Linked DNA regions of Homo sapiens. The protein of the gene in region 1 interacts with the protein of each later gene in a pairwise test. Each region holds a gene or a part of one and is shown on either strand. Other genes may lie near its edges.

Region 1 (3,653 bases):
GGAGGCCAAGGCAAGCGTATCACTTGAGGTCAGGAGTTCAAGACCAGCCTGGCCAACGTGGTGAAACTGCATCTCTACCAAAAAATACAAAAATTGGCCGGGTGTGGTGGCGCACACCTGTAGTCCCAGCTACTCAGGAGGCTGAGGTGGGAGAATCGCCTGAACCTGGGAGGTGAAGGTTGCAGTGAGCTGAGATCACACCACTGCACTCCAGTCTGGGTGACAAAGTGAGACCCTGTCTCAAAACAAAAACAAACAAAAAAACCCAATGAAGTCTTTAGTTCTTTCCCTGTCTTACTATCACCACTATTTCAGACATTATTTCATGTCTGTGCATTACTGTAAGTCTTCTGGCTGATCCCTTTTTCTCAATCCAAAACATCCTGTCTAATATCACCAAACTAATTTTAAAAGTACCATCCTTCTGGCCAGGCGCAGTGGCTCACGTCTGTAAACCCAGCACTTTGGGAGGCCAAGGTGGGCAGATCACAAAGTCAGGAGTTCGAGATCAGCCTGGCCAATATGGTGAAACCCCATCTCTACTAAAAATACAAAAATTCACCGCGTGTGGTGGCGCACACCTGTAGTCCCAGCTACTTGGGAGGCTGAGACAGGAGAATTGCTTGAACCCAGGAGGTGGAGGTTGCAGTGAGCTGAGATCGAGCCACTGCATTCCTGCCTGGGCGACAGAGCGAGATTCTCTATCAAAAAAAAAAAAAAAAAAACCCTTCTGATGCTGAGTGTGGTGTAAAAGATGACCAACACCAAACACGTTCTAGTATATGAAATGTCAATTTCATCATTTCTAATAAACACATTTTCCACATTCTAGCACCTCTGAAGGTGGGATGTATCACTGTTATCTAATATTCCATAAATATCCTATGTATGGAGAGACAATATAGCAAAATGGCTAAAAGCTCAGCTCTAGAGCCTGTTTCCTCATTTATAAAAACAGAAAAATAACGGCATGTACTTCATAGGGTTCTTGAGAGCATTAAAAGATGTACTTCAGGCCGGGCACAGTAGCTCATGCCTGTAATCCCATCACTTTAGGAGGCTGAGGCGGACGGATCACCTGAGGTCATGAGTTCGAGACCAGCCTAGCCAACATGATGAGACCCCATCCCTACTAAAAATACAAAAATTAGCTGGGCGTGGTGGCACGTGCCTGTAATCCCAGCTAACCAGGAGGCTGAGGCAGGAGAATCGCTTGAACTCAGGATGCAGAGGTTGCAGTGAGCCCAGCTCGTGCCACAGCACTCCAGCCTGGGCAACAGAGTGAGACTCTGTCTCGGGGGGAAAAAAAAAAGATGTACTTCATGTAAAGTGCTTAATATTCTGCTTGGCAGATGGTAAGTACTGTATTAGTGTTGGCTATCATTAGCTATTATTATTAGAAGTACTATGTGTCAGGCACTAAGCTTTTTACACATTATTTAATTCTTAAAGTTTCCTGCAAGGTGGGTATTATTCCCAGAAATTTAAATGAGTTATGAAAACTTCTCAAGGTTAGGTCACATCACTAATTATTGGCAGAAATTATGTTAGATCCTAGGGCCAGATGATTACAAAGGCCATGACCTTATTATTAGCCACCTGACTGTTTGATGACATCAAAGCTTTAAAAGAACATAGTAGGTCTAAGAAACCAAGGAGTTTAAGGAAGAAAATCAGGCCTCCATATATACAGGCAGGCAGATAAGAAATGAAAAGCCCTGCCTCCTTGGCTTACAATGCTCCTGTTAAGAGAGAAAGATGCAAGTTATTTAATCTTTTTTTAATCCTTGCCACCCTTCTCTTCTATTCCTGCAAAAAACCTGAACGTATACACACTAGCATAACATTTGAGCAACTTAATTTCAAAGTCCGAAGTCGACCTCTTCAAAGTTGTATAAGAAGGGCTGAGATAATGTTTATAAAATAAAAGAAGCTGGCCAGACACGGTGGCTCACACCCATAATCCCAGAACTTTGGAAAGCCAAGCCCCATAGATCGCTTGAAGCCAGGGGTTTGATATCAGCGTGGGCAACATGGTGAAACCCTGTCTCTACAAAAAATACAAAAGTTAGCCAGGCATGGTGGCACATGCCTGTAGTCCCAGCCACTTGAGAGGCTGAGGTGGGAGCATCGCTTGCGCCCAAGAGGTTGAGGTTGCAGCGAGCCATGATCATGCACTGCACCCAAGCCTGGGAGACAGAGTGAGACCCTGTCTCAAAAAAGTAGTAAGTAAACAAACAATAAAGAAAGAAACAAACTAAATAGTGAAGATAAACTGATAAATCTTAGCTCTCGGTTTTTTTCAACTGGCATAAACTGTTATTCATCCCTATCAAGTTACAGGTGGCCTGAAAATGGCTTTGAAAATTGTTTTTTTGGTGTGTTTAAAGAATATCACCTATTTTACATTCATTGTAATGTCTACGTCAGACACTTTCAATAAAGGAATAAAACATTAAAAGTTCTCATTAACATCTTTACACTACTTACTGGGCCATTTCAATTTTGTTTCACTTTGAAATAAAGAGGCATTCCAGGACCAGGCTTAAAACTGGAAAAAACAACCTAGCTAGGCTGGAATGATTCAAAGAATAAGCTGAGTTCCCACCCACCCCCTTCTTTGAGTACAGTCTAGTCTTTTCTCTAGAATCTAGCTTCTCATTAGACTCTGAAATGTCTATACCTCAAGAAATTCCAATTGAGTCCAATTGAAAATCCAAGTAACTTCCTTTTTTTAAGAAGAAAAGCATGCAACCAAGTAACTTTTTTAAGTAAATAAGATCATAACCTAATATACAGCTCAAAATTAACAGTGGGTTTGAATTCTAGCTTATTTTTTTTTCAGTGTTTCAGAAGGAAAAGAAAAGATTTAAGCAGGCCAAAACAGTGACTGCCTTTTCGTTGGAGTCAAGTAAACTTGAGTGCCTCTGTGTTAAGCTCTTCTACATACTTTTTTTCGTCGATTCCTAAAAAATCTGTAGTGAGTCATTATTTCCATTTTACATTTAGAGAAACTCAGGCTCAAAGACAGTAACTTGCCCCATACCGCACAATTAGTGACAGACCTGGATTTTGAGCCCAGGCTCTTTCAATCTAAGGGCCCTGTGCTCTTTCTACCAGCCTTTCCCTTTTACTGTCACTGGCAATACCAATAGCTCAAAATGACAAAAATTAAAGTTTTATATTCTCCCCAATAGGATTCCTTAATTGTCTTTTCATGGGCTCTACTCTTTTTCTGAATTTCTTCTGTTGTTCAAACAATACTACCATCCAACGAAGCTCACTTTTCAGTTCTATCAGACATTTGCATTATAAATGCATCCAGCTAAGAGAAGTTAATAAGAGACTAAGAAGCTGTAAGACAAAACTGACAGAAGCAGTAATCTAATTAGTCAGAAAGACAAGACTAAGGTCAGGCAATTCAAAAACCCTTCTTTTTTCCTTTATTAGAGGCCAACTAAGGCAAGGAATATACCTTTTAGATGATCCCTAATATTTACAGATTAAATCCACCAAGATATCTATTTGCCTGTGCAAGAGTCACAGTGCACACATGAAACATCTCTAGTGAATCCAAAGTGGTCTGAGGTCCCTCCGTGCCTTCCTCTCACTGTTCACAACATCTGCTGACTTGTTACCTACAGCCTCCCCTA
Region 2 (3,753 bases), on another chromosome or scaffold:
GAGGGCACCTCAGGGTACAGCCGGCCAGCACATGCTCAGGCTGCAGGACTGAGAATAGGGAGGGTGAGGCCAGGCCCTCTGGAGTCCCATTTGTTCTGGGCGGGTGGGGCCCTTGGTGTGCATTCCAGGCAAACCTTCAGTGTTGGCACTGTCTGCGTCCCCTCTGCTCTGTGACCTGAGGACACTGACTCAGACCAAGGCCTCACTGCCTGGTTCCTGGAGCTCCTGATTCCTGGGAGAGGAATGCACGGGCCTTCAGTGTGCAGACTGCAAGCACAGCCACGGATTCCCAGAAGTCTCAGCAGGGTTGGCCAGACTCCGTGAGGTCCCCACTCTACTTGGGTGGAGGGTCCCCTCTGTGCTCACTCAGGGCCCTCACCTTTCTCCTTGTAGGGCCTAATCCCACCCTTTTGCTGGCTTGAGAATCTCTCATGTCAAGAACTCACATCCCTGATATGGTACAGAAGGAGATGAGGGGACCCACATCTGGCCATACGTGACCAGGTCCTCCCGCGAAGGACAACGAGAGATGTCCAAATTCATTGGAGTCCAGGTGTCCTGGGTGACGAGTCCGCTTGGTCCTCACGTCCACTCCTGGCAGGGCCTGAGACCCTCCCTCTACTGACCTGACTCCAGCCCCTTCAGACCAAGGCCTCCCCTTCCCTGACATCAAAGATCCCAGGATAATGGAGGGACTTCAGCTGACAGCCCTGCCCAGGGTCTCTGAAGTAACCGCAGGGGCAGGGCAGATTTCTATGGGGCCCCCTGTCTGCATTCTGGCCCAGGAGTACCCTCAATCCTACCTCAGGCTCTCCACCTGGATGCTTGGCAGATCCTAGAACCACTGCATCTGTCGACCAGATGGGGGCCCCTGTGTTGACCTGAGTCACCTTCTGAAAACAAGGTCATCAACTCCCTGAGATCTGGAAACAGAAGTGAGGAGGGGCCACATCCTGTTACCCCCACGTGCGTTGTCCAGGGCTGACCCCTTTGGTTCTAGGGTGAACGTTATGATGGCCTCCTGTGGGTTACTCATCTTTACTCCTGCCAGGGACTGCCCTTTCTCAACCCCCAACCCCCTGAAATGAGCAGACAGCTCCTCTTTACACCAACACCTTATCTCCCTGAGGGTTCCCCAACCTCCTGCCTGTGGTACAAATGAGATTGTCACTTAGGGCCATCCCTGATCAGGTTCCCCCAGAGCTAAGAACAAGGGACGGCCAGACTCTGTGGCATCCCTTCTTTCTGGGCCGGGGGTATCCCCAGTCCTCATGAAGGGGGCACACCTTGGGTCCGGCAGATCCTGGGATTCCTCCCTCTGCTGACCTGAAGTCCCAGCCCTCAGACCACAGCCCTCAACTCTCTGTCACCCTGAAGGTGCAATGAGCACGGGGCACATTCGGCCACTGTGCCCAGGATCCCCCAGCCCAAGGTTGCCACTGATCTGGACTCCAAGGTCCCCTCAGTCCTCCCTCTTCTTCCTCCCCTTGACTCCTCGCAGGGCTGGGCCCCAACCCCCTGCTGAAGTGGGTCTGCATCCCTAGGATTCCCGCGGCTGAATGAAAAGGTGGCTCAGTTTGAGACAGGGGTACAGTGGGCCCCCTGTCCTGGCATGCTGGGTCCCCTAAGGACTCCACTGTCTTCCAGGAGGGCCTGGGCCCTTCCTCTGCATCCCAAAGGCCATACTCACGAGACCCAACCCCTTCCCTCCCTTAGCCGTACATGTGAACGTCAGGATCCGCGTGCTTGGCCGCCATTCCCGGAGCTTCCGTGGGTTGATTGCAGGGGCAAAGCCCGGATTCTGCCAGGATGGTGGTGGGGGAGGAGATGGGAATGGGGTTTGGGGGTGGGGTTGGTGTTTGAGGGATGGGGGTGGGGTTGGTGTTGGGGGATGGGATTGGTAGTGAGGGTAGGGGGTGGGTTGCCCTCAGTCCCCTCTTGGGGTCCTGACCTTGATTCCTGGCTGAGTCTGGGCCCTGAGCACTTCTAACCAGCCCTGCCCTGGTCACACAAAGCTCTTACGCCAGAGTTCCCTGCGGTTAAAGCGGCGGGGGGTGGCGGGGTGAGGTGGTGGCGACTCAGCCTGAGAAGTCTTCCCCTGCAGGGTGGTCCAGGCCCGGCAGCAGAGGCAGCGCTGGATTATTGGGGGCCCTCTGTCTGGGGTGAGGCCCGCCTCAGTCCTCCCTCGGCGTCTTACCTTGCCTCCTCACGGAGCCTGCGCCTGCTTCCCTCCGCCGACGTCAGGCCGTTGCTCAGGGCGAGAATCTCGCTGTCCTCTGACCTCCAATGCGCAAGTCAGTGGCGTCACATCCGGGCCCGTGACTTCCCTGGGTTCACGGCAAGGGTGGAACCGGATTCTGCCCGGATGGGGATCTGGATGGGGGGGTGGGGGTAAGCATGAAGATGGTGTTGGTGTAGGGGTAGGGATTGGGACGGGGATCCTGAGGCTGTAGATCCTGGTGGGGTCGGGGGAGTTGGGGGTGGGAGGGGCCTTTGGTCATCCCTCAAGGTCCTGACTTGGATGCCAGACTGAGCCTGGACCGCCATCCTCTGCCGATTGTGTTTGCTCCCCTCAGACCAAGTCTCTGACTCTGAGTCGGCCCGAAGTGGCATTGGGGGGAGGGGTGTGCTCGGGGTGAGATCATTGCCAGTGTGTACCAGGGCTGACAAGAGGGGCTGAGCTGGATTCTGTGGTCCCACTATGTGGGTGAGGGTGGATCCTCAGTCCTCACTCAGGAGGGTCCTCTTCCTCACTCCTGGCTGTTTGATGAAGGAATGGGTGGGAGATGCTCTGTTTCTGTCACCTCTGAGCATCTGCGCATCTGCGCATCTGCACCCCTTGTAGAGAATGGCTGCGGGTGCCAGGCCAGGTGCTCCCTGCAGGGCAGGAGCTCCCGCGATGATAGTGACCTCTGGGAGAAGACGCACACCTTCCCACGGGGGCTCCTCCCCAGCCAGAGCTACACTTGGCAAACCTTTGGTCCTAAATGATTTATTCTCTGAATTGAAGAAATACGGTTTACATATCTTCTAAGTATATATGTAGGTAGCAATATATATATTTATTTCTATGAACTAACACCTACCCTTAGTATGCATGATTCACTCTGATATCCTAGTCTACTTCCATTCCAGTCTTTGTGTTCTGTTGAAAGAATTTTTTTAAAAAACATAATTCCTCTCCCACTCTGTTGGTTTCAGGTTGTTATTAGCAGAACTCTGGAGCCATGCTGCCTTAACAAACCCAATTTTCCTGGTGGACACTGCTATTACCTAGGGCTCTTGGCATCGTGTTTTCAGGGGCTGCCTCAGATTGTGCAATGAAGTGAAGTGGAAAATTCAAAACTTTTATTCTACCCATTCTTTCATCTGCCGTCTAGGCAGGCTACAAACCTCCCCAACATCTCTGCCGCTAACCCCCTCCAACAGACACTGCAAGTGTCACACACAAGTACCAGCTCAACACAGTCTCCAGTCTCACTCTGGGCTTTCCCTGTTTTGTTGTGTAGATTTTCTTGCTGATACTGGTGTTTTACTTTCTGTTTCCATTCTATAAATTTACAGGGTTGATTTGGGAAGCAGAGCACAGCAGCCCAAATTTGCTTGTAATGTCGGCGGCTACAGGTAAGGCACTAAATTGTAAATAATTTAAGCTGAGTTTACATTTTTACACTGTTGTGTTCCCCGTGAATGAATATGTTATACTCCTCTATGGATTTCAAGCTCTTTTTTCCTGAATATGTCAGTATACTT

Evidence for each region. Proteins that work in one complex are often made in the same cells at the same time.
Region 2: the proteins of NDUFV2 (region 1) and MAGEA2 interact in binary tests that used the Homo sapiens proteins (3 or more experiments, as listed by UniProt).

Annotation. Positions count from the first base shown.
Region 1 is NC_000018.10:9,109,090-9,112,742, reverse strand, and holds part of NDUFV2 (NADH dehydrogenase [ubiquinone] flavoprotein 2, mitochondrial precursor), read right to left. Parts: intron 706-3,653; exon of another isoform or gene 1-705.
Region 2 is NC_000023.11:152,751,591-152,755,343, forward strand, and holds the start of MAGEA2 (melanoma-associated antigen 2), read right to left. Parts: upstream 2,253-3,753; 5' UTR 2,198-2,252; exon of another isoform or gene 1,952-2,197; intron 1,802-1,951; 5' UTR 1,723-1,801; intron 924-1,722; 5' UTR 804-923; intron 233-803; exon of another isoform or gene 135-232; intron 1-134. UniProt on the Homo sapiens protein: Reduces p53/TP53 transactivation function through recruitment of HDAC3 to p53/TP53 transcription sites. Also represses p73/TP73 activity. Proposed to enhance ubiquitin ligase activity of RING-type zinc finger-containing E3 ubiquitin-protein ligases.